2 separate regions of the Homo sapiens genome follow, and region 2 is linked to region 1. Evidence: fine-mapped expression QTL. A gene starts in region 1. The other region holds a variant in brackets. All regions are shown on one strand. Distances are between the middles of the regions. Region 1 holds the start of ADRA2A (adrenoceptor alpha 2A). Region 2 has its middle 49 kb from the start of HEAT2.

Region 1 (2,909 bases):
ATTTAGCCATCAGCCCCCAGCCAGACCTAAGCCTGCAGCTGGCTGCACAGAGAGGCAGCCTGTTCCATCCTTGGAATTCCAACTTAGGTGACTGCACAAGGCATTTTGGTTTAGTGGTTCCTTAAATAAGACGACATTCCTTTAAGTCTAATCTCTCTCCTGCTGAAATTTCCTACCCTCTTGGGTTTTACCATTAAACTGCTTGCTCTCATCTGAAAAGTGCAGCTAGCAGGGTGCAAGCTAGTGCTCTAGTGACCGTTAAAATCTATCCTAGGACAGCTAGCACGCACGGAAAAACTTGCCATTCGCCGCACACCCACTCCCCCCCGCCCCCACCGCTATTCTTATCAGAGAGAACATGGAAAATATTCTACTCCCTCTTCCCCTTATTGAAGGATGCTGTGTGTACATCTGAATGGGGGTGGGATGCGGGGCGGGAGTGGAGTCTAGCTTTCGGTCCTCAACAAAAACATAATGATTCCCAGCAAGCCAGAGCTGTGCAACCAAGGAGGCAGGATCCTGGCCTCTCTCGGATCTGCAGGAAGGGTGGGCTGTGCGGGTCCAGAGTGGGATGCCCGTTCTGGCCGGCGGTGCCTGCTGAGCCCTTCCTGATGTGACTTTATTAGACAAACCCCCACTCCCGCCAGGGGTAGACACACGAGTATCTGCTTTAGGAAGATTTCTGCAACACGGCAGGGTGCAATTCAAACTCTGGGTTCTCCTTTCCTGAGCTTAGAAACCAATTTGTTCGGAGATAGGAGAAGGCTCTGTTGGCAGAAGACCTAAGAGACGGGAGGAGGCGCCTGGCGTCAGCGGGTCGCTTCTCAGCCGTGACCACGAGCGGCCAGCAGGTGTCAGTGCGTCCTCGCTTTGCCCTGGCGCTCGGCTCCTGGACCCCTCCCCACCTCGGTCTAAGGGGGCGCGGTCCAGACCCCGGGTCTTGCGTTTCCCGCAGACAGCATCGCGGCTGGGAGGACACGTAGCCGCTTCTTCCCTAAGCGGAGGTCTGAACTCCGGCTTGTACCACTTCCCCGTGGGTGCTGTCCATTCCGCCCCAGGGGTTCCATCCGAAGCCGCGCCTTCCTCCCTCTCCAGGACCCCTTTCTCCCCAGCCTCCAGGAGCACCTGCGGACCGCGTCGGCTCTGGCCCGGAGCTGGGCTGCTCCAGACGTAACTCACACCGGAGGTTACTTCCCTCGATTTGGGCGGGGATTCCCTTCCATTTTTTTCTTCCCTTTTCTCCCAAGATCCAGCTTCTTGGGGGCACTCACGGGTGCCCGTTGCGTTCTGCTCCGTCGGCCCGGAGCTGCATGGCCAACTCCCAGCAGGGGCCGCTCCTCCCCTACCCCCCACCCCCGGGCTCCCTCTTTAAGTCTCTAGCTCAAGGTACCCGCCTCTCCAAAGGGCTCGTCCCGCCTGAGGGCAACGCTCCCCGAGGTCCAGCGCTAGGCGCGGGCGCTAGACTGGCGGAGGGGTGGTGCGAGGGGCGGGGGAGGGTCGGCTTCCCACGTGGGGGCTGACGCCGGCTGCTCAGCAACGCTTGCTTGATCCTGGGGCTATAAAACGAGTCCACCGTGAGCGCAGCGGAGCAGCAGCAGCTCCAGCTCGGTGCAGAAGCCCAGCAGCCGGCGTGCCGCCGCCCGGCCACTCCAGCGCCTTCTTCCCCGCCTTGCGCTCCTGCCCCAACTCGCGCTGTCGTCGGACCCCGGCCCATCCAGCAGCGCTCGGCGCCCACCAGGCGGACGCCCAGGAGAACCCCTGCCTCCGTCGCGGCTCCTGGAGAGCTGATCGTTCACCTGCCCCGGCCCGCCTGAGGACGGGGGTGCCTTCATGCGGCCCCCACACTCCTCACCCCGCCGCCGCCGCCGTCCCGGAGCTCCGCACAGTGTGCCCCAGCCCCAGCAGGGCGCACAACTTTGGAAGTCTCGCGGCGCTCCGAGAGGCGGCAGAGTCCGCGCCCCAGCCCCGGGCCGGGCCGGGCCAGAACCGCAGCGTCTGGGGGAAGCCAGAGAGTCGGTAATCGCTTCGGGGATGTAAGGCGACAGACATAGGACCCCCGAGCTCGCATCAGCACCCTTCGGCTGCCTCCCGGGGTGGGGGCGGGCCCCGCACACGGTAAGACCTCTTGCTTTCGCTCAGGCTCAAGATTCAAGATACAGATATTGATATGTATATATATATTTAATTTCCTGTCATCCTTCCAAGTTATCAGGCCACCGATGATTTTTGTTCTCCCTTCTTGAAGAATAAATCTCTCTTTACCCATCGGCTCTCCCTACTCTCTCCCGCCGCTTAGAAATAAAACTTGGCTGTATTAGGAGCTCGGAGCAAGAAGGCGCCCACCGAGAGCGTCTGAAGCGCGAGCCAGGCGCAGTTCGCGGGACCCGGGCCATGGGCCGCTAGCGGTCCTCCAGTTCGGGCCCGGCCTCCCTGCGGCCCCCTCCCTATGTGAGCCGCAGCCAGGCGAGCGGGGCGCCGGAGGAAGAGGAGGACCCACGGGCGCCGGGCCGGAAGGCAGCTGGCAGCAGGCCCAGGCCAGCGGGCGCCCGCGTTCATGTTCCGCCAGGAGCAGCCGTTGGCCGAGGGCAGCTTTGCGCCCATGGGCTCCCTGCAGCCGGACGCGGGCAACGCGAGCTGGAACGGGACCGAGGCGCCGGGGGGCGGCGCCCGGGCCACCCCTTACTCCCTGCAGGTGACGCTGACGCTGGTGTGCCTGGCCGGCCTGCTCATGCTGCTCACCGTGTTCGGCAACGTGCTCGTCATCATCGCCGTGTTCACGAGCCGCGCGCTCAAGGCGCCCCAAAACCTCTTCCTGGTGTCTCTGGCCTCGGCCGACATCCTGGTGGCCACGCTCGTCATCCCTTTCTCGCTGGCCAACGAGGTCATGGGCTACTGGTACTTCGGCAAGG
Region 2 (2,909 bases), 87 kb after region 1:
TATGTGATCAGAGATTTTAATCCATGCTGAGTGGGAGTCTATTTCCTATGGATTCTTTTCCCACTGCCTGGCCCCATACATAGCCTCTGGACTCCCCTTTAATCTGTAAAGCAGGCTTTGGGGGTGCTCCCATCTCTCTCCTAATACCATCCTCCCTTAAAATGCTCCCGAGGATCTTTTAGAGCAATGTATATGGTTTTCTCCCCACCCCCCAGCAATCTTATTGTACATAATTTCCTTTTTGAAAACTGCACGAGTCATAAATGTATCGCTTGATGAACAGTCAGACACAGAACACACCTTTCTATTCAACACCCAGATGAAGATAGAATATTGCCAGCAACCAAGAAGCTTCCCCTGTGATTTCTTCCAGTCAATACTTGTCCCCTACCACCCCATAAGAGATCTGCTATCCTAACTTCTAATGCCATAGTTCAGATTGTCTGTTTTTGAACTACAAATATAGACTCATACTTTTGTGTGTCTCTGGTTTCTTTGGTTCAAGTTTATGTTTTTGAGATTCATCTCTGTTGTTGGATTTATTTGTAGTTTGAACATTTTAATTCTGTAGTATTTTTATGAATACTTATCCTACTATTACTAGATGTTTGGTTATTTGAATTTTAGGACATTATGAGTAATACTGCTATAAACGTTTTTGTACATGTCTGTAGGTTAACATGGATACACGTATCTGCTGGTTATATTGCCAGGAATGAAATTTCTGGATACTAGGGAATGCATATGCTCAATTTTAGTAGCAATTGCTAAACAGTTTTCAATGTGCTTGTACTAATATACATTCCCACCAGTGGTGGCATATGAGAGCTCTAGCTGCTTCACATTGTCCCCAACACTTGCCAATGTTTGCCTTTTTCATTTTAATCGTTCTTGTGGGGGTATAGTGGTATCTGATTGCGGTGTTTCAATTTTGCATTTTCCTGATGACTAATGAAGCCAAGCACGTTTTCATCTACTTATTAACTAACTTGGATATCCTCTTTTGTGAAGCACCTGTTCAAGTCTTTTGCCTATTGTCTTATTGGATTGTCTGCCTTTTACTTATTGGTTATAGGAGTTCTTTATATATTTTTGGGCAAGTTCTTTTTAAAAAAATCCTCTTCATAATATCTCTTAACGTACAGAAGTTCTTAACTTTATCAATTTTTTCCTTTATGGCTAGTATATTTTGTGGTTTAAGAGATCTTTGTCTACCCTAATGTACTAAAAATAGTCTCATGTTTTCTTCTGAAAGTTTTATGGTGTTGCCTTTAGCACTTAGATCCACAGTTCATCTGAAACTCTTGTTTGTGTATGGTATGTAGTAGAGGTCAGGACTAATTTTTTCCCCATATAGATATCTAAGCGAATCAGCATCCATTATTGAAAAGGTCATCTTTTTCC[T/C]GCTGCGCTGTGTATCCGCTTTTGTTGTAGACCAGATGACTGCCATCTTTCTGTGTTTCTGGATAGACTTCTGTGTTGTTGGTCATTTTGTGTTCATCCAATACCTCACTGAAAATTTGATACCAGGTAGTGTAAGTTCTTTGTTGCTATTCTTCAAGACTACTTTTTGCTTTACATGCATCTCTATATATTTTAGAATCACTTGTCACCTTCCAAAGGAAAACCTGCTGGAATTTTGAGTGAGTTTACACACAACTGTAGATCAATTTGGAATTTGACATCTTTCCAGAATTGAGTCTTCTAATTCATAAGCATGCTCTATTCCTCCATTATTTGCATCTTCTTTCATTTATTTCAATAATGTGTTGTAGTTTTCAGTGTAGACATCTTCTATTTGTTTATTTTATTATTGTATTGATCAGTTGTCCTAGGAATTTATCCATTTTGTTAATCTTTCAATGTCTCAACTTTGAAAACTTTGTTGATTGAAGCCATGTATTTTTTTTTCTTTTTGGAAACATTGTTTTTGCTTCAGAAGTTTTCTTCTGAAGTAATTTTAGAGTTACAAGAAGAATTGTGAAGATAGTACAGAGTTCCCATATATTTTTCACTTGGATTACCCTAATCTTAACATCTTACACAACTGTGGTACATTTCTGTGAACTAAAAAACTAGCATTGGTACAACAAATATTAACTAAACTGCAGGCTTTATTTGCATCCCCACAAGTGTTTCCACTAACATTTTCCCCCTCTGATTCTGGAGCCAATCCAAGATACTACACTACATTTCGTTGTGATGTGTCCTTAGTCTCCTCCAGTCTGTGATAGTTTCTCGATATTTCCTTTTTTCTTCATGGCCTTGTCACTTTGTTGGTTCAGTGTTTTGTAGTGTCCCTCAGTTTGGTTTTGTCTGTTATGTTCTCATGATCAGACAGGTTATGGACTGGGGAAGGGTGCCTCAGAGATGATGATTCCTTCTCATTACCTCATATCAAGGGCTATATGATATCAATATGACATAGTACTGGTGATATTAACTTTGATCACTTAGTTAAGATGCTGTCTGTCAGGTTTCTCCCTTAGAAAGTGATGGTTTTTCCCTTTCTATATTCTGTTCATCAGAAGACAGCTGCTAAGTCTAGCCCTCACTCAAGTGAGGGAAAGTAAGCTCTGCTCCCGGGAGAGAGGAGTAGCAAAAATTTTGTGAACATTTTAAAACTTTCACTGTAATCAATAAATATTGGTGGAAGATACTTTAAGCTCTGCAAATATCCTGTTTCTCAAAGTTCACCCACTAATCTTAGTATACATCAGTGGAGATTGCCTGCAGCAGCTAGCTATTGCTATGGTACTCTGATAGTGATTTTCTACTTCTCTTATTCCTTCCACTTTTAAAAAAGCTGGAATTTTTCTATTAAAAAATTGTCTCTTCTGGCCAGGCATGGTGGCTCACACCTGTAATCCCAGCACTTTGGGAGGCCAAGGTGGGTGGATCATGAGGTC

Evidence for each region. PIP is the estimated chance that this variant, and not a neighbour inherited with it, causes the effect. A credible set is the group of variants that fine-mapping cannot tell apart.
Region 2: its variant is the best candidate, but not a certain one, in a credible set for the expression of ADRA2A in nucleus accumbens (GTEx, PIP 0.64).

What each region holds. Positions count from the first base shown.
Region 1 is chr10:111,075,443-111,078,351 of GRCh38, forward strand. ADRA2A (adrenoceptor alpha 2A) reads left to right here and starts at 1,587. Exons shown (of 1, transcript NM_000681.4): 1 at 1,587-2,909. The coding sequence starts at 2,555. RefSeq lists a silencer at 1,550-1,599.
Region 2 is chr10:111,162,294-111,165,202 of GRCh38, forward strand. No RefSeq gene overlaps it. Among named protein-coding and RNA genes, the nearest start is that of HEAT2, 49 kb to the left of the region's middle. The variant T/C (reference allele first, on the strand shown) is at 1,405.